Linked DNA regions of Homo sapiens: region 2 is linked to region 1. Evidence: fine-mapped expression QTL. A gene starts in region 1. The other region holds a variant in brackets. All regions are shown on one strand. Distances are between the middles of the regions.

Evidence for each region. PIP is the estimated chance that this variant, and not a neighbour inherited with it, causes the effect.
Region 2: its variant is fine-mapped to the expression of ZBTB18 in whole blood (TOPMed, PIP above 0.99). The same link has a PIP of 0.9 or more in T cells.

The regions. Positions count from the first base shown.
Region 1 is chr1:244,043,350-244,058,737 of GRCh38, forward strand. ZBTB18 (zinc finger and BTB domain containing 18) reads left to right here and starts at 7,934. Exons shown (of 2, transcript NM_205768.3): 1 at 7,934-8,095; 2 at 10,439-14,127. The coding sequence starts at 8,083. The coding sequence ends at 12,021. LOC124904570 (a long non-coding RNA gene) reads right to left here and starts at 4,892. Exons shown (of 2, transcript XR_007066975.1): 1 at 4,662-4,892; 2 at 2,334-4,248. LINC02774 (long intergenic non-protein coding RNA 2774) reads left to right here. Exons shown (of 12, transcript NR_033883.1): 10 at 74-200; 11 at 1,879-1,942; 12 at 3,543-3,968. RefSeq lists enhancers at 4,573-4,732, 6,943-6,992, 8,709-9,210 and silencers at 4,903-5,022, 7,173-7,262.
Region 2 is chr1:244,067,357-244,082,744 of GRCh38, forward strand. LOC440742 (a long non-coding RNA gene) reads left to right here. Exons shown (of 3, transcript NR_188395.1): 3 at 1-554. Among named protein-coding and RNA genes, the nearest start is that of ZBTB18, 24 kb to the left of the region's middle. RefSeq lists a silencer at 511-805 and enhancers at 7,460-7,509, 9,622-10,122. The variant C/G (reference allele first, on the strand shown) is at 7,636.

The sequences.
Region 1 (15,388 bases):
TCTAACATATACTAAGTTCTTAGTAAATAATTTCTAGATGTATCATTTTCCTTTCTGCTTGTTTAAATCCAAGAAGGTGCTGCATTCAAGAGTGAAGCAAGCACAAAAGGAAAGGAAAAATCTCTCCCTGGAGGAGAATGCAGACAGACAGACAGACGCTATTTGTATCTTTGCGTCCGAAGCACAGCAGCTAACACACAGTAGGTGTGAGGCATCAATATTACCTGGTAACCTCTCTTGTTCTGTTCATTTCAACTTTTCTAAGTTCATTTGCAACCCGAATTTCTACAAACTCCAATTTAAGCAATGTAATACAAGTGAGAATATTAGCATTCAAATATTTAGAAGTCTTATCCTCTCATTTTGAATAAAACAACTTCTATTTACTAATATTGTACAACATTTTAGCACAATTGATACCCCTGAAGACTTCCATCATTGAAGAAGGGGTTCTGAATATCATAGGTTCATATTAAATCTTTCTTTAGTAGAATTTACTCATCTGGAAGTCACATGTTTAGTTGGGTTATTTTAAATGGTAAATCTTAAAAAGCCCACAGATGAAACGAGTGTATCTTTTAATTATCCAAAGTAATGCAGCCTTCAACCCCACAGATTAACTCCAACATCTGGTATTTGAAGGCATGTGATTCTTAAGGATGGTAGACTTGCCTTTAGAAATTTGTTTTGTTTAGGATAGCCTTTAAATAATTTTTAACTGATTAAACTCCCACCAGTGAATGATACAAAGGCATCCTGTGTAGCAAGGAAGCCAGCCAGCCTGGGGTTCAAAAGTGGCCTGGGATTATATACAAAGTGAATGATGAATATATTTATAGTACAAAGTTAACAAGAAAAGCCATCATTGTGTGCATTTTTTTCTTCCATATGCTGTAACGTATAATGTATTTTATGGGGAGACTGGAGGAGATAGAGGGGGGAGAGAGAATGAGAAGAGGGTTGTGAGTTGGGTGGCTACTGAAACACCTCTTTGCTTTTTTCCTAAATTCTCTGAAGTGGCCTGTCTTAGTCCCAACCAAGCCAGAAGTATTGGCCTCCTTCAGCCATTATGCTGTCTGTAAAAGCACTGATTTACAGTAAGCAACAAAACACTGGCTACACAGGAAAAAGAGTTTTAGGGAGACTATCCTTTGCTCCCCTCTGCCCTTAAGCCTCAGCAGGTTTGAATCACTGGTGTAGGTTCATTCTGCTTTCATTGGCATACCACCAATGCCTGCTGCAAATCTGCTAAGGACTTCTCAAGAGTTTATGACATTATTTCTATCTTCAGGGCTGAGAATCAGGCTGAATTATCTCCAATTTAGGGCTTACCATAGTTTAGGAATTTAATAGATTCAAGTATCACAGAATTTATAACCCAGGGAATGATTTGACATAGAAAGTGCTTTGCAGAATTATAAATATATTTTACAGATAAGATTAGACTGTATTATAGAGAATTATAAATACGTAAAATATGTATTTTAAGAATGATGCTATATAAAATATGCTCCCTGTTCACTTCATTCTGTCTGTAAAAAAAACACACAGGTTACAGTTTTTGATGTATCAATGTCTCCTCCATATCTTTGGGGCTGTTACTCTACTTGCAGGTACATTCTATAAAACATTTTGTTAGAGCTATGCCTTGGCTTTAGATGCAGTACAGCTGAGTTTCTAAGCTTTTTGTAGATAATCCGAGTGTACTAATATTTTCATGAATTGTTTAATATCCTGACACTATCAATTACTTTCTGTCTACTCATGTAGAGATCTGTCACTCTCCTTAATGTGTTGTGATGTGTGTTCTGGTTTGTTCATTTACTTTTTTTTAAATCACTGTCTCAACTGTGTTTCAGTGTTTCCTTTTCCCTTTAGAGCATATCAACCTGTTCATTTCTAAATGCCAGAAGAGAGATGAGACAGAGAGAAAAAAAACTAAGTAAGTTCATAGAGTTCCATGTATGCTCTAATATTGAAAGTGAGTGGGCTTCATAGAAGCTTGAACACACTTCCCAGTTTAGTGTATTTTTTCTCTCTAGGTTCAAAATCAGGTTGACCTCTACTTACGTTTTGTTAGATTTTATAGTTATTATATTATCAATATAATACCTTCAAACACCTAGTATTTTACTGTTGCTTGCCTCCCTAATTTTTAAAGAAACATTCCATTCCTGTAGGAAATTAATACATTTATAAAATATCAATATCCAAAAACTAGTTTCCAAGATAACTTTTTCAATATGACCTATTGCATAAAGTGTAATAAAAACACTGAGGTTTTTCAGAGATTTGAGCTGTGGTTCACACTTAAAGGTCAGACATTCATTTTATGGAGTTGCTCATCAAATTAAATTTTATTTGATCCATCAACATTTTATACTATTACATTGTTATTAGTTGAAATGAATATGTTATTAGCACATAAAACTTGTTCCCTGGCAAGAAAGATTCATTTGTATCACTTTTAATTTCAGGACACCTAGAAAAGTATGGATTAACTAGAACTATACAGGACTGGATTCCTCCAGAAAGAAAGTATGGTATCTTTTCCCAAGAGCTTAGAATGTATACTTTTTGCCCTTTTCTCCCCCACTATGGGGGGCTGGGGAGAAGTATAGATTATTAGCTAAAAAACAAACAAAAAAACCGACAAACTCGACAGGTGTCAAGTAGCTGTGTGTCTTGGTAATTTGCTCAGCCTGTTATATAGTGGTAAACACCCTACTTTGAGGTGCTTACTTGAGGCGGATATTCAGACTTTGACTTATTACCTTCCAGGGTTCCAATGGGTATTAAATAAAAATACTACTCATTCTGTATTATGACTCCTCCGATATCAGCCTACTTTTACTCACAATTTTCATGGTGATAACTTTCCAAAGGATTGAAAGTATCATCTGTACGATAAGTTTATAAAACAGTTTAAGACAAGAGAGTAAAAACAATTTATTTAAATGTGAAAAAAAGGGCATAAAAGACAGTCACACTAGGGGACTCTGGATAAAATGGTTGTAGCAACTGAGGGGCAACAGATTTGCTTCCTTAAATATCCATTTAATCTATATTTCCTGGCCACACTGCTCAGTTCCCAAAATGGATTCTAGTAATGACTGTAAGGGAAACACAATACACACACACACACATACACACACAGGTTACAATTTTTGATGTATCAATGTCTCCTCCATATCTTTGGGGCTGTTACTCTACTTGCAGGTACATTCTATAAAACATTTTGTTAGAGCTATGCCTTGGCTTTAGATGCAGTACAGCTGAGTTTCTAAGCTTTTTGTAGATAATCCGAGTGTACTAATATTTTCATGAATTAATATCCTGACACTATCAATTACTTTCTGTCTACTCATGTAGAGATCTGTCACTCTCCTTAATTTTAACTTTTAGTAGATGAGAAACAGCTTTGATAACGCAAACATTTCTTTTTCCCTGAATTAGTTGGTGAAACATATACTTTTCACATCTCATTTTGTGTGCCTGTATATTTCATTCGTGAATAACATTTATTCCTTACCTTGAAACAGGTCAGACTGAAATTGGGCCTTCTACCACTAGACTGAAAAGACCTAGAATTCATCGACAGCACAGATACAACAAAAGCCTTCATGGAATACAAAAACTCCAATTTTCATAGGATATCCTTGACCTCAGTGATGAATCATGAGGGCGTAGAGGGTTGAGAAAAAAGTAGGCACATCACTACTGTTTCTAACCAGATATCTCGAAGCTATTTCAGTTCCAGGAATTCTGTCTGCTCCTGTTTTTACTTCATTAGCAATTCAACATGTCTGATTTGCCCACACAATACTTTCCAGCTACTTTACCCATTTGACCTGGAACAAAGTGAAAGCACATTTTGCCCAGTTGAAAGGTCTCCTGGCAGGTTGGTTAGCAACAGGCTTGCCAGTCTGGGTTCTGTTAGCAAAGAATAAACACATTTCATTAGACAATGACTAGTGGACTGACTTCCTCACTATGAAGTTGTTTTTTTTTTTCTATTTTATTTTCTTCAGCCATTCCCCCTCCCCCACCACTTGTTATTCAACTTTTTACTTGTAATTCTTGCCTCGATACGATTTCCAATTTCTTGACGGCAGACATTTCCACGTCTTTGTGGCTGTGATTAACGCAGTCTAATTGCCAAGAACAGGTACCGAGTAAAAGTTTATTTGAAGGAAAGAAAAGCGACACAGCAGTCTTACATCGTCCCTCGGTAGTTTAAAGTTGTGGCTAGATACGTATCAATTAAGGAATCAAGCTGAGGCATCTGCAAGTACCAATTTTACTGTAATGCTCTAAAATTTGGTCACTTGGGGAAGTCTTTACTTGTAACAGTGTAAGTACACAAGGGACAGGAGGGTTTTGCGAGAAAGGCGGGCGCTCTGCCCTGTTCTGCCCGTGACATGATGACGTAAGAACGACTCCCAGAAACTGCCTGAGTCGCCTGCGTCCCCAGCTCCCCGATGTGCACCTGGGCGCGGGACGCCGCAGGACGGAGCGAGAGCGCTCCTCGGTCCCGCTCCCCTGCGCACGGGCCGGCGAGGACCCGGGCGTCTTCACCCCCACAGGAAGGAGCAGAGAGAGCCACCCGAAGTCGGCCTCGAGTCATCCGTGTCCCCGGGTGCCCTGCCTCTCCAGGATACCTGCGTAACTCGCAGCAGCCAAGCCCCACTACGTTCAAAAGTGTGTTTGTGGTTGTCACAGTGCACACCGAAAAGCTCGCTCCGCACCCGCAGAGTGCGCGGGGCCTCTGAGCCTGGAAACAAGCCCCTCCCAGCGCAGCTGTCGCCGCCGCCTGCGGGCTCCTTTCACTTTCTCACGGCCAAGTCACCCAGAGGGGCGCCGCTGCTGCCACCGCCGCTGCGCCCGAGGACTCCGCCCCGCGCCGCTTCGCTCCGGATCCCCGCCCGCCCGAGCCCCGCCCACCCCAACAGTTGCTGCCTGCGATTGGAACGCGCGGGAGGGCAGCTACGGCTCGCCACCCCCATTGGCTGGGCCCCCTTGTCAGTCCGACGACTGCCCACCACCCCCTCCGCCTTCCCGAAGAGCCGCCTTCCCATTGGAGGAGTCTGAGGGCTGGGGGCGGGCGGGGAGCGCCGGTCCAGCCGCTTTCGGTCAATCGCAGAAGCCCAACGCCCGGAGGGAGGGAGGCAGGGGAAGGAGAGGGGCGGACTGAGGGTGGGGGGAACATCTGGCCGGCGCCGCCGCGTGCGTGCGTGGTGCGTCCTCCCGCCCCCTCCCCTCCCCCTCCCCCGCGCCCGCCCCCCCCCCGCCCCCGCCCCCCCACCCGGCCCGGCGGCTCCGCGCTCGCTCCCTCGCTCGCTCCCTCGCTGTGTCTGGCAGGCTGCGGCCGCCGCTGGGCTGCTGCCATGGGGAGCCGTTGAGAGTGGGGCCCTCTTCGCTCCGCCGCGCTCCTCCGGCTGCCAGCGGGGGTGGGCGGGAGGGAGGGGCGGGGGGGAGCGGGCGACGGAGCCGGGATTGGGGGGTGGGGGGGCCGGGAGGGAGGGGGGCAAGAGCCGGAGGAAGCCCACCAAGTCCGGCGGCGGCGGCGGCGGCCGGGAGGAGGAGGAGGAGGAGGCGGAGGACGCGGCGGCGGCGGGGACGCGGTGACTTAGGGCCGCTCCGTGTGAGTCCCGGCGCCGGCCCCTGGCCCCTGACCTGGCGCCCCCTCCGCGCCCCGGCACCCCGGCGGGCGGGGGGCGCCAGCTGTGCGGCCCCGGCCGGCTGGGCGGCGCGGGCGGAGGGCGGGCCGGGTCGGGGGCGCCCCCGCGAGTGGAGTTAGTTTGTGTGGTTGGAGCTGTTGGGGCGGCGGGGGGCGGCGCAGCTGCGGGAGGCCCGGGCGCGGGGACGGGGCCGCTGCAGCTGCGGGGTCGGGCGGGGTGCGGGTTCCCGGCTCCGCGCCGCGCCCCCGCGGGCCGGTGCAGCTGCGGCGCGGGGCGGGCTCCCGGCCGGTGCAGCTGCGGTGGCGCCTCTCGGGTGCGGAGGGCGGCGGGCTGGGGGAGGGGGCTTGGGAGCAGCCGCAGCTGCAGTGGCGCCCGGGACGGCCGCGGCTCCGGGGACCGGTGCAGCTGCAGTGGCGCCCGGGGGAGGGGGCCGGCGGGGGAGGGGGCCCTCCCGGGCTGGTGCAGTTGCCCGGAGGCCCCGGGGGCTCGCGCGTCGCGGCATCGGGGAAGCGGTAGCAACCACTCTCCTCCCGCTGGCTGCTTCTTACGACTTTTCTTTTGTTGTTGCCGTGACCCGGGTCTGTTTTCTCCTCTGTTGTTTAAGGTGTTTTCCTGCTGCACCGGCTCTGCGCCCTCCACCTCCTTCCCTGTGGTTTTAACCTTCCTCTTTCCCCGTGTGTTTTATGCACGGCGAACTACGTAAAGATTTGCATTGCTTCCCCACTCGGCACCCCCGCCCCCACCTCTCTGAAAAACAAAACCCCAACCTCACAAAACCTCTATGGATCCGCGGTAGCGAGACGTGAAGGGGTTGATTTGTGGAGTGGGAGTTGCTGGCCCATTGCGGTGCCCGGGACTCATTAAACTGTCACTCACCCCCCACCCCACTGGGTAAATGGGGTGATTAATGTCTGATATATTGGAATGGGTCGAGGGCATTTGTGGAGAATAGGTGGTGTGGCTGGGAAGAAATTGATCTCCCGAGGATGTCTCCTGGACTAAGTGTTCATAATTATGTCACTCACCGCGAAGTTGGAGAAAGTTAGGTTTGTGACTTTGGGAAAGCGAGAAGGACAGGACGGAGTCGTCGGGTTTTGTTACTCTTTAACTCTCCGCCACGGCTTTCTAATGGGAACGAAGTGGTTATCACCAGGGCTGGGACGCTGGCGCCTCAGGCCCCAGTTCCTTTTCTACCCCTCGCCCTCCCAAGAGTCTGAGGAGATGTATTTGACATTCAGAGATGTCGCAGCACCCTGCCCGGTACCGGTCAGCCCAGCCCGGGTCGCGTTACAGTTTCATCAGCTATTAGAAAAGACCCACAAACTGGCTGAAAAGTTCTCAAACTTACTAGACCTGGCTTCCCCCCACACAAAGATTTTCTTGTGATCATAAACATTAGAGTGACCCCCCCCCAAAGAAAAAAAAGATTGTTAAGGGACACAGATCAAGGGGAAGGCAAGGTTCTGCTTTTTCTGAGCAGAAAGATCAGATATGCAGGTGCAGCATTCATTTTAAGTGACTGGAGCAGGTTGTATCAGTTTATTAATTGGTCTCGTTGAACTGAAGTACTTTCCAGGATTTCAGAAAGTGCAGTTTCAGCTTGTTGGTACCGAGAATTGAAATTTGCATTGACTGTGGCAGTGTAAGAAATTTTTCTGAGAAGGTAGTTGTAGATAAGTAATTACATAAGAGTGAAATAATAAGGTGAACCAGTCTGAAGTAATAGTTCTGAACAAGTCTGCCAACATTTGAGACATGTATACCATTATCTCAGCAGAAAAAAATAAAAAAGTGCGGTAATAATGTTGAAATGGGACTGGAGATGTCAAATGGGTTGGTTTAAAAATATCCCTAAACTGCTTTAGAAACTAAACGTTGGAGTTGAATAAAAGTGAATCTGGATTTCCTGAATAGCACCGTGGCTTGAGTGTGCTGTCAGTATGTAAGCCAGTCCACCAACTTAAGACAGAAGTGTTGCTATTCCATAAATACAGTAGAACTCCATATGCTGAGTTTTTCAATTTCTTCTGTTAGAAAGTTTGGAAAAAAAGGAAGACTTTGAAGTATTTTGTTTATACTAACAGAAGAGAAAAGTTCTCCTAAGAAAAAGCTGGTGGCAGGAGTGTAGAGGAGTAGCATATGGCATTAAAAGGAGCACAGCTGGAGGTAGCATTTCCATCTGAACATGATGTCAGAGCAGCTGACAGCCTGCCATCCCTCAGCCTTTTATTCTAACACACAGACAGGGAGTTAGTGTGTGCGGATCTGTGGTGGAGAAGGTATCTCATTCCTCTCTAACATCATCTCCACTTTGCATCTGTCTCTCTTAGTCTGCTTTTTTTCCACCGATGTAACAGACCTGGAGCCAGCAGGACTCAGAGGAAAGGACTTAATCAGGTTTATGTGTCCTAAAGGTAGGAGTAGCAAGAGATTAGATTGAGCATATTTCTGTTTTGGTGTTTTGTTTATTTAATTTTAAAAATCACATTACTTTTCTAACCCAGTTTAGGAATAATATATGAAATTGAGTATTAAATGAACATCTTACTGGAGTTGAAAGTCTTGAGCTTGTTTAGTTTTAATTTTTTATCCCTTTTACTTGAGCGAGTAAATAACTTTAATACACAAATATTTCAAGTTTTGAAATGTTAAGAAAGGCTTTAAAATGCTGCTTTTGGAAATCACGTTGGATTAAAATGCTTTTTTGTTGTTCACTGCTATTTAGATTTGATTGGGGTGGTGGTGGTGGGGAAATAGTAAACTGGAATCCAGCATTCAAACTTATATGAGAAGATTATTCTAGTTAAGCAGCTAGATTGTTGTATAATTAATTCCTCTGTGAAACTTTATTCTTCAAAACATTGAGCAGCACTACTGAAACATACAGCTGTAGTGCTGTTGAAACTGCAGGTTTTTAAGAAGAAGAAAAAAAAACCAAACTTTTGTCCCCAGGAGAATAGTTTGACTGGTTTCCTCATTTCTCTTTCAAATATATATTTAAGAGATCTTTTATTTCAGCATAACAATAATTATTTGCAGGAGTTTTTGTGTTAGCGACTAATTTAGAACTTGTAGATTTGAGCTGCCTGAATTGGCCAGACAGCTGTAATCGCACTCCTCTATTCTTAATCTCTTTATCTGGGCAGCAGCTGCCATATGGCCACAGTCAGCTGGATCAGATGTTTATAAGCTTCCTTCTTCGTCCCTCTCTGTCCTCTCAGCCTCCTAATTTGATCACGGCTACCTTGTGAGCTGCCCTCCAATCTTTATTTTTAGCCTTCTCAAGGATTAGGATTGATGTTAGCTGTGGGGCACTTAAAGTGATTGTATTGTAAATCTTAGTTTATTCTAGCAGTGGCATCTTGCAGAATGTGTCTGGGGTTAGGATAAAGTTTTAGTCTGTCTTGGGCAAAGTGTAGAAGAACAAGAAGAAAGGAAGTAATTTCTGAATATTAAATTAAGTGTATCTATTCCCAAAATGCACTTGCTGAGATGGGTGGTGTGGAGGCTTGCTTCTGGTCACAGGAAAGGGGAAGTCGGGTCTTCTTTATTTTTCAGGAGTTTACCCACTGCAGTTGAATTCTGACCCTTTGTACATCTTTGCCTTTCTCCTCCCTCCATTTCACTTTCCCTCATCACAAAACAAGGGCAATGATGAATATTTGCAAGAATAGAAGCTAGTGGGAAAACAGAAATATATCAAATTATATTGAAACAAAGTATTTTCTGTTGGCTGAGGTAAGGCAGAACCAGGAAAAAAAAAAAGGTTCTCTTTTTCTAAAAAGGCTTAAAAAAAAACGTTGAACCTGTAAAGCTTTTGAGTTTTATTTAAGCGCTGTATGCCTTTATTTTTAAAAGTTTGAATTAATTTCAATATGAAACTCATTTTGCCTTGCAACGGATCAAAGTTTAGATGAGAATTTTCGGAGTTCAGTAAAGCCCCTCTGGTTCCTAATATTCTGAAAGTACAGTTTCTACAAAGAAATGTAACTACTTTTTTCTCAGTTCGTTTTGAAAAATCTTTGGATTTGTTCATAGTAAAGATGATCTTTTCCATCTGTTGGTGCAGCTCCTTCTGATCTCGTACATGTGTGCTATACCTGCAAATCTGAAGGCATTAACATCTGTTTTTATACACAGGGCTTTTGTTGTAACACCCTGACTTTAAAAGTAAGTTGTTTGCTAATTTCTGGACTAATTATGCAATTTCATTTTTTTTTCTTGATTCAGCCAAATGTGTGTGTGTGTGTTTAAACTGTGCTTTCTAAGCACAGTCAGGTAGCAAAAGTAATAAAAAGGATGGTTGAACAAGTTTTCTTGTATGTTCCAGGATATGTTTGGGACTTTTCTTTGTTTATTATATGAGTTGTTCCCTTTGAAATTAAAGCTATTTTGTAGGTTTTGTGGGACATAATTTGATAAGTAGAGTTAATTAAATTTCTTCTGGAAGAGATCTAAATTCTTATTCTTAGTGAGAGACTGTAGTTAAAGGAAGGCTTTTAGAACTTGGGTTCAAGGAAGATGGAGATGCGTCGGAAGCTCTTTGGCGGGGGTGAGGAAGTTCAGAAAGTGTGCATTTTCCTTCTGGCATTTAGGTCTTGTCCGTGTGATTTGGTGGTGCTTGGGTCATAAGCCTGATTAAAATTCAGGGACATGTACCACGGCGGCCAAAGCGGAATTAATTTTTTTATATGGGGACTGGAGCGCTGAAAAGTTGTTCCTGACCAGGCTCTAATGAGAAATTCCTCTCTCCCCAGGTTATGAAGACAGTATGGAGTTTCCAGACCATAGTAGACATTTGCTACAGTGTCTGAGCGAGCAGAGACACCAGGGTTTTCTTTGTGACTGCACTGTTCTGGTGGGAGATGCCCAGTTCCGAGCGCACCGAGCTGTACTGGCTTCATGCAGCATGTATTTCCACCTCTTTTACAAGGACCAGCTGGACAAAAGAGACATTGTTCATCTGAACAGCGACATTGTTACAGCCCCCGCTTTCGCTCTCCTGCTTGAATTCATGTATGAAGGGAAACTCCAGTTCAAAGACTTGCCCATTGAAGACGTGCTAGCAGCTGCCAGTTATCTCCACATGTATGACATTGTCAAAGTCTGCAAAAAGAAGCTGAAAGAGAAAGCCACCACGGAGGCAGACAGCACCAAAAAGGAAGAAGATGCTTCAAGTTGTTCGGACAAAGTCGAGAGTCTCTCCGATGGCAGCAGCCACATAGCAGGCGATTTGCCCAGTGATGAAGATGAAGGAGAAGATGAAAAATTGAACATCCTGCCCAGCAAAAGGGACTTGGCGGCCGAGCCTGGGAACATGTGGATGCGATTGCCCTCAGACTCAGCAGGCATCCCCCAGGCTGGCGGAGAGGCAGAGCCACACGCCACAGCAGCTGGAAAAACAGTAGCCAGCCCCTGCAGCTCAACAGAGTCTTTGTCCCAGAGGTCTGTCACCTCCGTGAGGGATTCGGCAGATGTTGACTGTGTGCTGGACCTGTCTGTCAAGTCCAGCCTTTCAGGAGTTGAAAATCTGAACAGCTCTTATTTCTCTTCACAGGACGTGCTGAGAAGCAACCTGGTGCAGGTGAAGGTGGAGAAAGAGGCTTCCTGTGATGAGAGTGATGTTGGCACTAATGACTATGACATGGAACATAGCACTGTGAAAGAAAGTGTGAGCACTAATAACAGGGTACAGTATGAGCCGGCCCATCTGGCTCCCCTGAGGGAGGACTCGGTCTTGAGGGAGCTGGACCGGGAGGACAAAGCCAGTGATGATGAGATGATGACCCCAGAGAGCGAGCGTGTCCAGGTGGAGGGAGGCATGGAGAGCAGTCTGCTCCCCTACGTCTCCAACATCCTGAGCCCCGCGGGCCAGATCTTCATGTGCCCCCTGTGCAACAAGGTCTTCCCCAGCCCCCACATCCTGCAGATCCACCTGAGCACGCACTTCCGCGAGCAGGACGGCATCCGCAGCAAGCCCGCCGCCGATGTCAACGTGCCCACGTGCTCGCTGTGTGGGAAGACTTTCTCTTGCATGTACACCCTCAAGCGCCACGAGAGGACTCACTCGGGGGAGAAGCCCTACACATGCACCCAGTGCGGCAAGAGCTTCCAGTACTCGCACAACCTGAGCCGCCATGCCGTGGTGCACACCCGCGAGAAGCCGCACGCCTGCAAGTGGTGCGAGCGCAGGTTCACGCAGTCCGGGGACCTGTACAGACACATTCGCAAGTTCCACTGTGAGTTGGTGAACTCCTTGTCGGTCAAAAGCGAAGCACTGAGCTTGCCTACTGTCAGAGACTGGACCTTAGAAGATAGCTCTCAAGAACTTTGGAAATAATTTTATATATATATAAATAATATATATATATATACATATATATAAATAGATCTCTATATAGTTGTGGTACGGTCTAAAAGCAGTCTTGTTTCCTGGAAATAAAAAGTTGGGATATTAACTTGTTTTTGCACTTTAGAATAGCATGAGAATCTCACTAATTTAGCATTCTGATAAAAGAAACTTTAGAGCAAGTCAGAATAGAGAGGTGTTTTTCCTTTGAGGGGATAGGGGAAGTAAGCCAATAAGAACCTTTTAAACAAATCGTCCTGTCACAAAATGCTTTCATATGGCTTAATTTTGTCAACACTGCATTGTCTTTTGAGCTCTTTTTTCCCCCCCAACAAAGTTTTTTTGTTTTTTGTTTTTTTTTTTAAGTAGAAATTCCCTCCAGTTTTATTAGCCTCTTTATATGTCTCAAATTGCATGAATTTTTTCTGGCTGTTGGAAACCTGAATGCTTTTAGACCCAAATGGAAAATTTCTGAAATGCTGGATTATCTATTTTTAAACAAGCAGTTGACTTAAAACTTTCTGTGGCAACTTCTGGTTTTCTGACAGTTCCCAGTGAGAGAAATGCTGAAAGTACACTGGGATCACTGGGACACTGTCTTATGAAGGTTTGCTTGGGATGAAAAAGGATATTGCAGCTTCAGCAGTGTTGAACTGTGTGTTTAAAAATGTGAATTACTGTTATTGTATACTGTAATTGATTACATGGGCTGGGGGGGTGTCAAAGAACTTGACAGGTTGTGTTGATGCTCTTAGTTGAGTCTTGAAAAGTAAATATTAACGCTACAGAAATGCATGAGTTTCAATATATTTTTTGTCTTTGTTTGCATTGTATAACTTTAACGAGTGAGTTTAAAATTATTTAATTTCCTTAGAAAAATAACACCATTTGGAAAAAAAAACTGGTGTTATGAAGAACGTAAATGCACTGTTTTTATTTTTATTTTATATAATTTAAATTGACTTTCCCACTGTCTTTAAGTTGAAACTGTTAAGCTGAATAAAAACTTAAGCTGCAAATTGATAACTTCGCTACATAACAAGGAAAATATAAATGTTTACAAACAGCTTAAAGATTTGCATGTGCAGTGTGCATTTATAACAAACTTCTAATTGCACAAAACCCATGCCAGCTCAGAGTTTAGGTGTACACATTTACCCAGTTGAGCGTTCTTAGAATAACTACTGCACAAGTTGACAATAGGTCGTTCTCTCTTTTTTTTTGTTTGCTCCCTTTTTCTTTTTCTCCCCTTCCTCCTTACCCTCCCTCCCTTACTCTCCCCCCCCACCACCACCCTCCACCCCCAACTCATGAAAAGATTCTATGGACTGAAAAAGCCCCAGGCTGAAAGGACTGGACTGCCTTGATTGACATGGGGAAGGGGGTTAGTAGACTATGTGGATTGCGGCAGCAGAGGCTGCAGCCTAACGTGTGGTTTTAATGACCAGCACGCAAGGCAAAAGCATTTTGCACAGTGTTTGTTTTCCTGTCTTGCACTTACAAATAAGGTCTATGGGAGTAGCATGGAAAACGTTTGCTGTTTTTCCCTTTTTTTTTTAATTGCTTTTGTTTAAAATTTGATCGCCTTAACTACTGTAAACATAGCCTATTTTTGTGCTTAAGATACTGAATGGAAAACTCCATTGTGTGTTGCTGGACTGTTTTGGAAATATTTGGTTAAATGTGTGTTAATTTGGCTGTAATGGCATTTAAAGCAAACAAACAAACAAAAAAAGCTGTGAAAATGGCCTTGGAGCATTATCTTTAGTTACTTGAAGAGTTTCTAGTTTTTTTAAAATACAGTTTATGTTAAAATAATTTTTATTAATTTAGAGAAGACAATCAATGTCTGTGAGAAAACGGACTTTCTTTTGGATTTTCTTTTTGTGGTCATTGTGAGTGATTGCTTTTTCCTTTTCTTAGTTTCACATTCTTCCTTTGTTCTAAAACTTAGACTGACATCTAGCTTTGACAATCATAGTATGTTTTATTTTCCTGAGGGGGAATAACTTATAATGCTGTTTAGTTTTGTACTATTGGTGTGTTGGTGAATTTTTAAACTGTGTGCTAACTGCAATAAATTATATGAACTGAGAATTTCTTGTGTGTATTTTTTATTGTGATTATGTAGTGTATAGATTCTAAATATGTATCATACCTGGCATCTTTAATATCAATTCTATTCGGAGTTTATGAAATTATTAGAATGCCTTAAATCACTCGAGTGGAAAATGTGTAAGCATTCTAGTCACTTAAGAAGATACTAAATGCACATTTAAAAAATGCGACCCATTTTCACAATCTACATCAAGAATGTTGAGGTAATTCCCTAGAAACTCATGAATCATGAAACTACGTGGCAGCATAGGTTGTTAAAAATACACTGTACAACTACTAATCCATATACCGTAAGTCACTTTTCGTGTGTAATTTTATCCTAAGTTGATCGGTCAAATCTATTCTCCTGTGTTCTGGTTTAAGTGGAAAATTGAAGGAGACCGGATGTTTTAATTTGGAAGACTGCTTGGCTAATGACTGGAATTCTAGGCAATTGAATTAGCAGGCATGCAATTGTTCACGATTAGCTATATACATCCTTTTTGTTGCTGGGAGAACTCGAAAGTTTCTAGGTTTTAATTCTCAAGTTTTAATTTAAACATGTAATTAAATACATGGACCATTAAAAGAACTCTGTTCCCTACTTTTTATGATTGTCCCAACTTCATGCTTATCTAGTTGGGTACATGTCAGGGTGAGAAACATTGCTGGTTGACCTGGGTAGGGAATTGACAGAACACTCACACATGCGGATGATACTGTAGAGGAATTGTCACAAACAACCCTAAGCTCAAGCAGTCAGGTGCAGGCATGGAGAGGTTTTGTAAACCGTGCTTGTCTCTAACTTCCAACCTTAAATAGAAATATGACTATGAAATTTTACATTATTACTGTCAAACTATGTTTATATTCAGTGGCCTATAGTAAGGTCAATATTTTTAACCTACAGAAGTGGGATATAAGGTCTGAAGTTTGAAAATGGACCATTTACCAACTACCTGGTGGCTTTGGATAGGAAGCCACAGGGATTTTGTCATGAAGTATAATAACATAATTTGGAATCCTAATTTCCATCCCCCTGCCTTTTTTTTTTTTTTTCTAAAACAATTTTTAAAGTATGTAACTCATCCTTGGTTTTAACCAGCCAAATACTGTTTCACATGAAAGGGGAATGTACATTTGACCCCCATAGAATAATTTCTTGAGCAGTTACAAGCTTACAAAAAGGGGAGGGAGGGGGACTTTTTATTTTCAGTTCCTATAGTAACTGGTCAGAGTATCTCAAAGCTTCCTGAAGATG
Region 2 (15,388 bases), 24 kb after region 1:
AGGGCAGGTCCCTGCATCCATCTCAGCGCCCTGCAGCCGGCGGCCTGTCCTTTCAGGCGGGAGTTCCCAGCGGCGTTCCTAGGTGTTTTGAATGTGTGCCCCGGGGCTGGGGGAAGCCTCGTGCAGTTCTGCTGCTGTGGGAGGCAGGGGGGACTGGAGGGGACGGGAGCAGTGTGAGGCTTTCATGTGCAGAGGGGACATGAGGACATCTGGATGGCATCCCTGTGAGCAGGGCTCCCGCTGCAGGCCTTTGAAAACCCCGCTGCCCTGGCTCCCCAGTGCCTTGGAACTTTCTCCCTGGAGAATGCAGAAAAGCCAGTGCCCTTGATTTCTTAGACATCTACAGCTTCGACACGTGCAGGGTTATCCAGGAGCAGTGAGGTTTGGGGTGAGGGCCTGAGCACTTTCTGAAAAGTGCTTGTTTCTAAGAACCTGGAACTATGAGTGAGGAGTGACATGAGTTCTGCCCTCAAGTCCTCTGATAACCAGCTGTGCAGTCTTGAACAAGTGACTTCATCTCTTCATCTTTAAAATAAACCTTTTGGGCCAAATGACTCGAATGTTTTTCCAACTTCATTTTTTTTTTTTTTACTGTTTAACAGAAATGCTGATTGAACTTGGGCTGGGAACAAAGAAATCTTTTCTAATTAGAGTAGAAATGATGACTAATATACTGCTCAAGCTTCTGAGGCTCATTGGGATCAAAGACACACTCACTCTGATAAGGGAGGGCACTGACCGGGCTGCTGACTGTTTCCACCAGCCTTCGGGTTTTAATATCTAACTACAGTTATGCCCATGCATGCTGGCCATGTGCTAGACACACGCTTCCTTGTCTTTGCTCAAGTCTAGTGGCTTTTGGGTTATTTGTATTTTTTAACAGGAGAAACCTGAGAGATCCTAAGTAGATATCAGGCAAGAGCTTGTCTAGTTCCATGTTTTGTTTTGTATGTTTTGTTTTGAGATAGGGTCTTGCTCTGTCACCTAGGTTGGAGCTCAGTGGTGCAATTGTGGCCCACTGTAGCCTCGAACTCCCGGCCCAAGTCATCCTCCCATCTCAGCCTCCTGAGTAGCTGGGACAACAGGCGTGCGCTTCCTGGCTAATTTTTTTTTTTTTTTTTTTTTTGTAGAAACAGGGTTTTGCCATGTTGCCCAGGCTGGTCTCAAATTCCTGGGCTCAAGCGATTTGCCCTCCTTGTTCTCCAAATGTGCTAGGATTACAGGCATGAGCCACCGAACCCAGTCCACTTCCATGGATTTTAAAAATGTTAAACACCTACCTTTAAGAAAGATGATGAGGCAATATCACCTTTGTTTTTGTTGCCGTCTATCAGAGAGAATGACTCCTAAGGAGTCATTCCTATGAGTCTTGCAGAGTGATTTTCTGTTTGTTCAGCTCCTTCACAGAGTCTTGGTTGGACAGCTCCCCGTCACCTTCCCCGACAGGGCCTTGCCTTTGAAAAGGCTAATTCTGGTAGACAGGCAGCTTCAACAGGAAGTGGCACACCAAGGACCATCGCTTTTGGATGTGGTTCATGGGATGTGGAGTGTCCAAGGAGATGCTGATAGGCCTAAAGATCAGAGATCATTTGACTTCGGTAGATTGTCAAAAGAGAACACAACACAATTGCAAATGGACTTTAAAATGAGAGAAAATCAAATTTCTAGTGACAATCATAAAAATGCCACAATCCACCATGGACAGCCACACCACCAACCTAGTCATTTTTTATATTTCTAGCTTGTACTTAATCCATTCCAGCATGGAGCAAAACGCTATCAGTGTTCTGTGAAGAAACAGTCCAAGAGAATGATTGCAGTCTAATTTGCATAAGAGTCTAACTCAAATATTTTCACTTTTTTTTTCATTTTGAAGTCACAAAGTAAAATGGTTGAGGAATTTAAGATTAGCATGTAAGCGAGACTGAAATAGGACTATGTTCTCATATTAGTTAAAACTCTTTGGTTGCAAGGAAGAGAAATCCAACTTAAGTGAGTTTAAGCCAAAAAAGAATTTTATTATAAGGCTACTTGGATTCAATGGAATCCAAAAGAGGAATATGGCTAGGCCTTGCAAGCAGCTAGAACTAGAAGCTCAAATGCCGTCTGGATTTGCTCTCCTCTCCTTGCCTCTGATTCTCTTTCTGCTGATTGGCATTTTCTATTCCTCAGTCCACATGGTGGAACAGGGCTGCCAACTGCTTCTGCATTTACATGCCTTCATTTTCAGACACCCAGAGAGAGACTGACTTCTTTTGTCAGTTGCAGTTCCCAAATCCTGGGGGGAGGGCTATGATTGGCCCGTTTGGATCAGGTGCCCACCTCTTGACCAATGGTCGGTGCCAAGGGTGAGGCCCGTTGTAGCAAAAGTTAGTCTCCCATGGTGCCATATTGAAGGCACCGCATATGCATGCACAGGGGGCATGGGAGCAGGGCAGACAGTTTCCCAGAATGCGGCTGGTGCTGAGCTGACGAAGCAATGGGGGCTCTTTACATATCTCAACGAAAATTAAAGGGAAATGAGGAGAAAATATTATTTCTTTGGAAGTGAGAATAGTATATTCTCCCTTTTGGTGTCTCCAGAGTTCATTTCTAACCCATGGCCAAATGGTTAAGTGAAATAATGTTGTTTTTTTTTTTAAAAAAAGTACAGTAAAATATCAATTACTTTTCACTTAACTTGGCTTATCTAATCTTCTTCCCTTATGACCTTACAGTCTTGGAGCATGTTCACATACATTTTTCTGAAACCCTTACTTGATCCATGCTGCGGAGGCCATGTGACTCAATTGCTGAGCCGACCCTTCAGCTATTTAATACTGATCCAGATGCCCTGTGGGTGGGACAGAGGGTGATCAGACAACAGCACCCATGAACAAAGAAGATGTCTCCCCTTTCCCCGTGTTCGGGACGGAGGAAGGAGACTCGTGTCACTGAAGAGCTCTGTATTCACAGCAGGTGTGGAATGTGTGTTCTCCACGTAGAAACACCGGAATCTAGGAGGCGAGGGCATGGAGGCGTCGAGAGCATCAGTGCAGGTTAATGGGAACCAGGCCCTCTGAGACTGAGCACCCGGGAGCATCAGCCAGGGTACTGGCTACTGACAAAGTCACACTCCCCTTCTCCCGTGCTTTCAGTGCCACTGTCTGAAAATGAAGTTGTCCCTTAGAAGGTCCCTCTTTCCAGCCCCTGGGAGACCTGGCTTTCCTGAGCCAAGAGCAGAGAACCACTATTTCATTTTTTATTTATTTAAATTTTTTTTAACTTTTGTTTTGTATTTTTAGAGATGGACTCTTATTCTGTCACCCAGGCTGGAGTGCAGTGGTGTGATCATAGTTCACTGTAACCTTGAACTCCTGGGCTCAAGTGATCCTCCTCCCTCAGCCTCCCGAGTAGATGGGATTACAAGTGCATGCCACCATGCCCAGCCCCACACAGTTTTTTGTTTTTGTTTTTGTTTTTGTTTTTTCTTGAGATGGAGTTTTTGCTCTTGTTGCCCAGGCTGGAGTGCAATGGTGCAATCTTGGCTCACCACAACCTCCGCCTCCTGGGTTCAAGTGATTCTCCTGCCTCAGCCTCCTGAGTAGCTGGGATTACAGGCATGCGCCTCCACGCCCGGCTAATTTTGTATTTTTAATAGAGACGGGGTTTCTCCACGGGGTTTCTCCATGTTGGTCAGGCTGGTCTCCCTGCCTGGGATTCTCCTGTTTCAGCCTCCTGAGTGGCTGGGATTACAGGTGCGTGCCATCACGCCCGGCTAATTTTTGTATTTTTAGTAGAGATGGGGTTTCACCATGTTGGTCAGGCTGGTCTTGAACTCCTGACCTCATGATCTACCCGCCTCGACCTCCCAAAGTGCTGGGATTGCAGACGTGAGCCACTGTGCCTGGCCTGCACTCCAATTCTTGTGATTTGTATTTGGGGGGCTTTCGGGCCTGACATTGGGCTCCCAACCTCAGGTGATCTGCCAGCCTCGGCCTCCCAAAGTGCTAGGATTACAGGCATGAGCCACGGCACCCAGCCCATAGTTTGTTTTAAATGGCAGACACAGGCTGGGCTCTGTGGCTCATGCCTGTAATCTCAGCACTTTGGGAGGCTGAGGCAGGAGGATCACTTGAGCCCAGGAGCTCAATATCAACCTGGGTGACATAGTGAAACCTCATCTTTACAAAAAAAGCCAAAAAACAAAAAACAAAAATTAGACAGGTGTGGTGGTGTGCACCTGTAGCCCCAGCTACTCAGCGGGCTGAGGTGGGAGGATCGCTTGAGTCTGGGATGTTGGGGCTGCAGTGAGCTGAGATGGAGCCACTGCACTCCAGCCTGGCGACAGAGCAAGACCCTGTCTCCAAAAATAAAATAAATAAATAAATAAATAAATAAATGCTAAACACAGATTGTCTGGACGTGTGGCTCATCACTTTTTAGGTACTCATGGTCCCATCACTAAAGATGCAACATAATCAGAATCAGACTTGTAAGAGATTGAACGAAGCTCCTGATTAGAATTAAGTCCTCAAGGTCAATGTGGAGACACATTGATTCAGTGTGTCACGGACTCTGGAGGAAACAAAGGGGGACATTTCAGGCACCATGGGTTTTGTTGTTGCTGTTCGTACTCCAATTCTTTTTTTTTTTTTTTGACGGAGTCTTGCTTTGTCACCCAGGCTGGAGTGCCATGGTGCGATCTCGGCTCACTGCAATGTCCACCTCCCAGTTTCAAGGGATTCTCCTGTTTCAGCCTCCTGAGTGGCTGGGATTACAGGTGCGTGCCACCACGCCCGGCTAATTTTTGTATTTTTAGTAGAGATGGGGTTTCACCATGTTGGTCAGGCTGGTCTTGAACTCCTGACCTCATGATCTACCCGCCTCGACCTCCCAAAGTGCTGGGATTGCAGATGTGAGCCACTGTGCCTGGCCTGCACTCCAATTCTTGTGATTTGTATTTGGAGGGCTTTCGGGCCTGACATTGGGCTGCTGCCTCTCTTCAGGCCTTTGTTGATCTTCCTGCCTGCCTGCTGCGTGGATGGGGTGCAGATCCAGGCTTGCCCACTTCACGATGGTGAGAGCTTGGGCACATGACAGGGTCCCTTGAACCCCAGTTCCTCACTAACATAGGGATTTCAGCAACTCTCTCTTAGAAAGGCCATGGGGACGTGTGAGTTGGTACCTTTCAAGCAGTGGAAGCATCGTCTCTGCTAGGATCCTTTCAGTCACTGTTTTCAGTGACCGAAAACAGACACAGACTAGTGTGAAGAAAGAATAGACTTTATTAACTCACACGGCTAGGAAGCCCAGGAGCAGCGCTGGCCTTGGGGGTGACTGGGCACAGGGCTGAAGATGACACTAAGTTCTTTCATTCTCTGTTTGCCCTCCTCACCCCATTTTCATGGGTTCGCTCCTGTATTTCCAGCTGAAAATGGGCTTTCCTCACATAATGGGGGAAGCTTGCCAGAGGTGGAAATGGAACTAAGGTAGAGGGAAAATGTTGACGAAGTGGCTACTGCACACTTGGGCCTGGGGATACAGCAGTTCCTGCCGTCATGGAACTTACTTACCAGCCAATGAAACAATGAAACCAAAAATGACCATAAAGTATCATGAGTGTTATAAAAGTGAAGTGCACCGAAAGAGGGGTCGCGCTGTAAGTGGAGTCCAACCTGGCTGATGTGCCAGAGAAGATTCTTCAGAAAGTGGCAGGGGAAGAGGAGTCAGCCTGTAAATAAGCGGGTGGAACAGTGTTTTGGGCAGAGAGTTAGCATGTGCGAAGGACCAGACAGAGAACTGGGCAAATCTGAGGAAACTGTCAGATCTTTCTCAGTCCAGTGGGTCTGGCTAGAGCACGATGGGAAAGGTGTATCAGTTTCCCAGGGCTGCCAAACAAATCACCAGCAACTGGGTGCCTTCTAACAACAGTCCTTTATTCTCTCATTGTTCTGGAAGCAAGAAGCCCAAAATTAAGGGGTTGCCAGAGCCATGCTCCCGCCAGAAGCTCCATGCGGGAATCCTCCCTTGTCCCTGAAGTTCCAGTGGCCGGTGGCTCCAGGCGTTCCTGGTGGCTGCACCACTCCAATCTCTGCTTCTATCTTCACGTGGTCTTCTACTCTCTGTGTCTTCTCTTCTGCCTCTTTTTTTTTTTTTTTTTTTTTGTGATGGAGTCTCACTCAATCACCCAGGCTGGAGTGCAGTGACACGATCTCGGCTCACTGTAGCCTCTGCCTCCTGGGTTCAAGCAATTCTCCTGCCTCAGCCTCCCGAGTAGCTGGAATTACAGGCACCCACCATCATACCCGGCTCATTTTTGTATTTTTAGTAGAGACGGGGTTTCACCATGTTGGCCAGTCTGGTTTCGAACTCCCGACCTCAAGTGATCCTCCCGCCTCGGCCTCCCAGAGTGCTAGGATTTCAGGTGAGAGCCACCGCACCAGGTCTCTCTCTGCCTCTTAAAGGACACTTGTCATTGGATTTAGGGCTCACCTGGGTAATCTAGGATGATCTCCTCATCACAAGATCTTTAACTTAATGGCATCTGCAAAGACCCTTTTTCCAAATGAGGTCACATTCAGAGGGTCCGGTTGTTAGGTGTGGACATATCTTTTTGGGGATCACCATCCAATTGAGAGAGATGCTACTGGGCTGGTCAGCCAGGCCAGGACCTAGGGGATCTGGGCCTCATCCTAGAGCAGGAGAAAAACATTCCATTTTGCACTCCAGAAAGAACACTGTGGTTGTGGATGTGCCATGTGAGATGCAAGCAGGGTGGCTGGCCTGTCAGGAGAGGACCGCTGTGGTCCACGTGACAGGTGATGGAGGAATGGGCTGAGGCAGCAGCCCAGCCAGGGATGGAAAGAAGGGTTTGGGTCCCAGTCAAACTTAGAAAAAACAAGTCAACGGGACTTGGGGACTGATGGGGCTGGGTGGCTGGCGGCAGGGTGGAGGCAGGGTATCATTGGATGATGTGTATCAATGTGATACGTATCCCTCACATTAATTTTTCCCAGGAGACAGTGCTAGGAGGATGGAAAGAATATTGGCTTTGAAATTGGCGAAACCTTGGTTGAATTCCCAACGCTATTCCACTTTCCAGCTTCTTGACCTTGGTTGTGTTTCTTACTATTTCTGAGCCTCAGTTTTCTCCGACATAAAATGGAGATAATAATACTGAAATCACAGGGCTCTTGAAGGAATTAAATGACAGCCTATGTGGCGTAGTGGGCTCTGGGTGGCCACCTGGGCACCACAGATGTGATGTGCTCTTTCCTCCTCCTTCCTCCTGCCTGACCAACGTCCCTTCCTGCAGGGGCTTCCCCGGGCGCTCAGCTGCACCCACCTCCTACTTCTCTCCCACTTGCTTCCTGCACGGCTGGCTCCACCCCACCTGCAGCCTTTTTTTTCTCCTGGGACCTGCCCACGCATTGCCCTCTCCACTGTCCTGGAAACTTCAACAGATATTTTCTCACCTGTTACCCCTAAGTAGCCCAGGCTGCAAAACGGGTAGTCTTAGCGCCTTGAAAGGGAACCTGAAGGGCTTGCTGAGTTTACTGCCGGCTGCGATGTGTTCGTTCACTGGTTTATTCCTGCATCTATGCATCCACTCCCTCAACAAACACTTCGAGTGGGCGAGGCATTGTCTCGCAC[C/G]GCGAACACTGAGCTGAACGGAAATGTGGTTCTCACCTCATGAAGTTTACTAATTCTACCAGGCAACCCGCCCTCTCTGAGCTCATGAATTTTCTGGTTGCACTGATTTAATGGCTTCACTCTCTGGCTTTGACACCCCCACAGGTAAAGTGAGGGAGAGCGGGAGGAGCATGAATTTGATTGTCCAGTCTCATCCGGGCTAGGTGGACATTAGGACACACAGGCAGGTTCCCAGGAGGTGGAACAGAAGCTGGAGCTTCCCTGAGAAAGCAGACACCCCCGTCCTACCTCTCAGACACATTTCCGTCTTCACTGGTGATGTTTTTCTCCACCCCGTTTCTTGCCACTTGCCATTCATAATCACTGCTCTTGGTCTGGTAAGCAGAGAGGGCAGGACAAAAATTTGATTTACTTACGACAATGTTTTACAAGCTTGAGCATAAAAACATGTGGTTTCCTGGGACTGGCCATCCCAGGAATTTGGCTGGGACATTAAGGAGTTGGCTGGCACTAACTGTAAGTGCCTACCACTTCCTACCCTCCTGGGGGAGGCTTGCCTTGCTCTTCTGAGCACTTTCTAACTTCAGGCTGTCTGGAGCCTCAAGGTTCTCCAACGTATGCAAATGCATGTGTTCTGACACAAGATGCAAATGTCAGGAATCCTCTTTTAAAAGGGCCAGTCTCTAAGACTTGCAAAAACGGCGACCGGAGACTGACTTAAACCTACCACCCGGAAGAGATGTTGGCTGTGAGGAAGGGAGAAACAATGAAGTGTGAGATGGTGTGAACTCTGGAAGGCAGAACCTTAGGGAAAAACGAAAGAGTAATTTCGTTCGTTGATGAATTCATTTATTCTACTAAGTATTGTGCAGAGCACTATAGGGTTTACCAAGAATAAAAATTGTCTCTATCATGGAGGACCTAAAAGAGATCAGAGAGAAAAGTTTTATTCTCGGTTTACCAAGAATGACAATTGTCCCTATCCTGGAGGACCTAAAAGAGACCAGAACCTTAGGGAAAAACGAAAGAGTAATTTCGTTCATTGATGAATTCACTTATTCTACTAAGTGTTGTGCAAAGCACTATAGGGTTTACCAAGAATAAAAATATTGTCCCTGTCCTGGAGGACCTAAAAGAGACCACAGAGAAAAAGGCAAGTACACATGAACATGTGTTTTGCTTTGAGGATCGTGCAAAAAAGCTGATATGAGGCGAGCACCTCATGTTTAACGTACTCTGCTTCACTCGACATAAATTCCTGCTAGCTTCCCTAACAAAGTTTCAAGGTAGGCACTAACACCATTTTACAGATAAGGAAACTGAAGTTGAGAGAGTAATTTTTCCAGGAACCAGGGTTCCAACCTAGATCAGCTGACTCTGAAGCTTATTAAATCCACCTGTGGAAAATCAAGTTAAGAAACAGATTAAAGGGGCCAGGTGCAGCACTTTAGGAGGCTGAGGTGGGCGGATCACCTGAGGTCAGGAGTTCGAGATCAGCTTGGGTAACATGGTGAAACCCTGTCTCTATTGAAAATATAAAATTCGCTGGGCGTGGTGGCATGCTCCCGTAATGCCAGCTACTGGGGAGGCTGAGGCAGGAGAATAGCTGGAACCCAGGAGGTGGAGGTTGCAGTGAGCTGAGATCGGGCCACTGCACTCCAGCCTGGGCGACAGAGTGAGACTTCCATAACTTTTATGATATAGTTTTCAATCAGCTGATTTACCTCTACGATTTCAGGAACACCCTGGCATGTTGCACGAGGCTTTGCCTGCTGGGGTGTCTGTTGTTCAGTCTAGACCAGCATGCAGCCACGGCTTCTTTTGGCCTCCGTGGCCAATTCCAAAAGTTCATGTGAGAAGGGGTGAAGAGGGATTTTAGAGCCAGAAGGGAATTGAGCTTTCCTCAGCCTTATAAAAGCATGGAAATTGAGACCCAGAGAGGTTAAGTGCCTGGCCTAAGGTCACACAGCTTGTTAATGGTGGGGAGACGAGACTTGGTTTTGCCCAACTCTCCTTCTGCCATCTGTCGCTACTCAGCACAGTAAAGGAGATGGCGCAAGTCATCTGTGGCTCGCAGAAGTGCTAGGAATAATCCCATTCACGCATTTGATGGTACCTACTGGAGCCCCATTATTTCCAATTATTTACATGCTCCGGGCACCTGCAGCCAACCTGTACGTGCCCTTTCCCAGGGGTCAGACTTCCCTGGTGCCATGTGGACTCAATGCAGCATGCAGCCTCAGCCCTATTTTGTCTCTTCTATGCATTAAGGGATCCGTTTACATTTAATTGAAGCTTGGCATACTCTGAGCTGAGGTGGACTTGCTTTGGCCTTCTGAAAAAAGCATGCAGTTTTGGCCTATGAGTTTGAGTTTCATAGAGTAGCTTCCAATACCGGAGGGAAGCTGGCCTGTTACTCTCTGGAGTCTTTCTGAATCGCACAAAATCTCTGTGTATGCCTTCTTTGTTGTTCCTTTCCCAGAAGCGTGAAGTCCCTCAGATTCCACGGCGGTGGGGCTGGGAGAGCCCAGGTCCGGTGCGGGCCAGAGATCCCTGCGCGTCGGCACGTGAGCAGCCCCTCTGCGGTCTCCCGTCCTCACGGAGAGGCTATTACAGCAGAAGCTCCCTCGGCCCCCTCCCCACCCCCTCGTAGTTGAGGAGGAAGTGAGAAAGGGCTTGGCTTGGTGCCTGGCACACAGCAACCCTCCGTAAAAATGCCAGCTATTACTATTGCTATTGTTGCTATTATTCTCACGACTTCTCCATCTTCTGCACCACCCACAGGCTGCTTTGCTGTGAACACGGGGATGTGGAGAAGAGTGAATGAGCTAGTGGGATGGGAGCGACTGAGTGTGAAGGTTAGGGAGGGAAATAAAACAGCCCACAGCCCTGCTGCACTCAGCACCTTCTCCCTGCCTGCAAAGTCCTTCCTGGCATCTCTGGAAATCCTGACTGCCCCACGAGTCTCCCACCTCCTCCCCTGTTTCTGCACCGCCACTGGGATTGGTACTTGCAACTTGAATGGCTCTTCTCGTGTGCTGCCTTCTCCAGGGCCCACTCATGCCTGTGGCTGTTGCGACCCTACTATGTGTCATGCATTTGACATTGAACATCTTATTTATTCATTTAGTTATTTATGGCAGGGTCTCACACTGTCTCCCAGGCTGGAGTACAGTGGCATGAACACAACTCACTGCAGCCTTGACCTCCTGGCCTCAAGCAATCCTCCCACCTTAGCCTCGCAACTAGCTGGGACTACAGGCACTCACCACCGTGGTCAGCTAATTAAAAAAAATGTATTTTGTAGAGATGGGGACTCTTGCTATGTTGCCCTGGCTGGCCTCGAACTCCTGGGCTCAAGCGATTCTCCTGCCTCAGCCTCCCAAATTGCTGGGATTCATCTCTTTTAAATTCTCACATCAACCTTAGGAAGGAGATGTTTCCCATTAACCATGACAGATAAAGACACAGGGCTCAGGGCAGTTAAGTGACTTGTCCGAGGTCACCATAGAGTGACAGGGCAGAGAGGCAGGCTTGGGTCTGTCCAGCTCCAAAGCCCATGCTCTGTCCATGCATCTCAACACTCGCTATTGCTGCAGCTGTTGTTGGCTAGCCCTAAGGTGAGCCACGGTCACAGACCTTCAACCCACAGCACAGTTGGGGGATATGGGTGATTTTCTTTTCTTTTCTTTTCTTTTTTTTTTTTGTTTGTTTTTTCGAGACAGAGTCTCACTCCATCACCCAGGCTGGAGTGCGGTGGCGAGATCTCAGCTCACTGCAACCTCTGCCTCCCAGGTTCAGGAGATTCTTCTGCCTCAGCTCCCTCCAGTAGCTGGGATTACAGGTGCGCGACACACATCCGGCTAATTGTTGTATTTTGTAGAGATGGGGTTTCACCATGTTGGCCAGGCTGGTCCCAGACTCCTGGCCTCAAGTGATCCACCTGCCTCAGCCTCCCAAAGTGCTGGGATTACAGGTGTGAGCCACCATGCCCGGGCTCGACTTTCTTATTTATGCATTTCTGTGTTGACCATATCTTTTTCAATGAGCTTGCATTACTTGTGTGCTGTAATAGGAAATAATATTAATAATCTCTGACAGCACCCTGGACAAGTGTCAGCTCACTGATTCCTCATATAACCCTGGGTGAGGATCTTGTGATTATCATCCTTGTTTTCTAGAGGAGAAAAGCAAGTTGTAGAAATGTTAGATAATTCACCTGCTGTCATCCAGTCCATAGTGGCAGAGCTGGGGCTTAGACCCTGGTGGGCCTGATTCCCAAGATCTACTGTTGACTGTGGAGCTTACTGCTTCCAAGTGGAAGAGAAGGGTTTTGTCTTAAGAATACAGGAAGCATTTTGTTTATATGAAATATCCATAATCAGCAAATCCACAGATACAGAAAGCAGATTTGCTGTTTCCAGGGTGTGGGGTGGACGGTGGGAGATGCAGAGTGACTGTTAATGGGTACAGTGTTTCCTTTTTTCTTTTATTTTTTTGAGACAGAGTCTCGCACTGTCACCCAGGCTGGAGTGCAGTGGCACGATCTTGGCTCACTGCAACCTCTGCCTCCCGGGTTCAAGCGATTCTCCTGCCTCAGCCTCCTGAGTAGCTGGGACTACAGGCATGCGCCACCACCCCCAGCTAATTTGTGTATTTTTAGTAGATATGGGGTTTCACCATGTTGGCTAGGCTGGTCTCCATCTCTTGACCTCGTGATCTGCCCACCTGTTACTAAGCTGTTACTGAGTATTTCTGGAGGCAGGTATATTTTGAAAGCTCTTTTATTTTATTTTCTTTTTTTTTTTTTGAGATGGGATCTTGCTATGTAGCCAGGCTGGAGTGCAGTGGTGTGATCTTGGCTCACCTCAACCTCCACCCCCGAGGTTCAAGCGATTCTTCTGCCTCAGCCTCCTGAGTAGCTGGGATTACAGGCATGTGCAACTACGCCTGGCTAATTTTTGTATTTTAGTAGGACGGGGTTTCACCATGTTGGCCAGGCTGGTCTCGAACTCCTGACCTCAAGTGATCCACCCGCCTTGGCCTCCCAAAGTGCTGGGATTACAGGTGTGAGCCCCCGCGCCTGGCAGGAAGCTCTTTTCAAGAGAGAAAAAAAATCTCATGAATGCAGAAAAAGCAGCAGCAGCAGCCCATGGGGATGGGAAACTCTAAAAACAGCATAGGAACAGGTGACCATTGGAATTATTTACTCTACCAAAGGGGTCTGGAGGTTGAAAAATCACACTAGCTAAGGGTTACAGTCTGCTAAACGCTAAGTTCTTTATGTTGATTATTTCAATGAATGTTCATCAGAACCCTGGGAATAGTTATTTTTATCATATCCATTTCACAGATGAGGAAACTGAGCTGTAGAGGGGTTAAGTGGTCATCAGGACACTAGTAAGAGGCCGAGCTGGGCTTTGACTCCAAGTGGTCTGACCTCCAGGTCCACACTGTCACTTGTGTGTCCTGATCCATTACCTGTGAGTGCAGCACCCACAGGCAAGTCCCACTTCACTTCGAGAAAACATTCCCATTTTTATTCTTCCTGCTTTCATCAGTAACTGCTTGTCCGGCAGGAGTAAGTGCTTCAGAAATACTGAGCTCAGTGAACCTGCTAAACACAGGCACCCCGGTGAGACTCTGCCGGATGATGACAAATCGTGTTCACATTAACCTTGTGCCCTGAAGGTTGCCTTTGGTGGGAAGAGGCAGAGAAGACGTGAGTTTCTTGCCAATTCCACCTGGTGGAGAGCCTGCCAGGCCTCCTGACTTGTGGTCCTGTCTCTGACCGGCACGGTGGCTGCTTTTCCTAGGCAAGTGCGGCATAATGTCCCTCCCTGTGATGGCCGGTGCAGCTGCCCAGGACAGGTGTGCAAAGACACAGCTCCACCGAGGCAGGGTGAGAAGAGAGTTTTGAAGATTGAAAAACAAAATAAAAAGCCAAACCCATAACTTTCTGCCGTAGATATTCTTTAAAGTCCTGGTGGGGGCGAGGTTGGAGTTATTATGCTCTGTGTGTGTATGATGAGATACCAGGGCAAGCCACTGTTAATTTTATAATTCAAATTCTGTTTGAATAAATAACCATAAAAACAACAATAATTACCCCATGCTCTGCAAATATTTGCTCTCCACATAAGGGTTTATGGTAGAAGCATGAAGTCTTGGGGTCCTCAAACTTCAGAAAACAAAGGGTACAGATCTTAGGGAAGCTCCAGGCAGAAACTGAGGGGGCTCCTGGAAAGTCTCTGAGTGTAAATGATACAAAGGCCGTCCCTCTGATGGTTGGCAGTAGGAGAATAATCATATCCTGGCCATTCCAGATTTATTTATTTTATTTTATTTATTTATTTTGAGACAGAGTCTCCCTCTGTTGCCCAGGCTGAACTGCAGTGGTGTGATCCTGGCTCACTGCAACCTCCGTCTCCTGGGTTTCAGTGATTCTCCTGCCTCAGCCTCCCAAGTAGCTGAGATTACAGTCGTGCACCACCACACTAGGGTAATTTTTGTATTTTTAGTAGAGATGGAGTTTCACCATGTTGGCCAGGCTTTTCTTGAACTCCTGACCTCAGGTGATCCTCCCACCTCAGCCTCTCAGAGTGCTGGGATTATAGGCATGAGCCACCGCATCTGGCCCCATTTTAGATTTAAATTCCAGAGCCATCCACAACCATTTTCCCTGCTCTGTGCATGCCCCCGCTTCCCCCAACCCCAAATCTAATCAGTTGATGGGATCCATCAATGTGATTTCTGCATTGCTTCTCCTCTGTCTGCCTTCTACCTGCCTGTGTCTAGTGCAGTACCTCATTACCTCCTGCATGGACCATTGCAAGAGTCTCCTACCTCGTTCTTCTAGAAACCAGTGCAAACTTTCAAAAGCATGGACGAGGTCAACTCACTCCCTCGTTCCAAATTCTGTAGTAGCTCCATTTTACTTACAGAATAAAACACGAACTCCCCAGCCTAGCATATAATACACTGGGTGATCTAGCTCCATCCAATCTTTCACTCACTACTTATTCAACACGTATTCCCCGAATTCCTCCACGCACCAGGCATTGGCATCCCCTCTGTGTGCACAGTGCTGCCAACAAAGTCCTCGTCCTTCTTTCAAGGACCCCAGAGGGTGGAGGGGGTCACACCAGGGTGCTAAGGACTTGCCCAGCTGGAGCCCCTGTGAGGTCAGGGAAGGCATCCTGGAAAAGGTGACTTATCTAAAGTCACTTGAAGTCACCCAAAGAAGGCATAGGAGGGAGCCAAGAAAAGATGGAATGGGTGTGGGACGGGAAGGCAAATGGAGCAGGTACCCCTTACCCAGGGATAAGGGGGTGCGGGCAGTTCAATATAGCCATCGCCTGTGAGAGGGAAAGTGAAGACAGGAGGAAGTGGGTCTCTATTACAACAGACTGGAAGAACCTGTCTGGGAGTTCAGGCTTAATCTTGAGCAGTGGGAGGCCATGGAAGGGTTTAAGCAGGAGAGCGCTATGAATAGATTTGCATTTTAGAAAGATCATTCCGTCTGGAGTTTGGAGAAAAGATTGGAGAGAGGGAGAAGAGAGGCAGGGAGGTGGTTATGAAGCCCCTGCAGGAGCTCAGGCAGAGGGCGATTGTGGCATTGGGGATGGTGGCGTAAAGAGTTGACAGAGGTAAGAGGCATTGAGGTGCTGAGGGAGGAGGTCTTGGCAATTATTTGATGTGAAGGGTGAGGGAGAAGAAGGTGACAAGCCCACGTCACAGGTCTCTGGCTTGG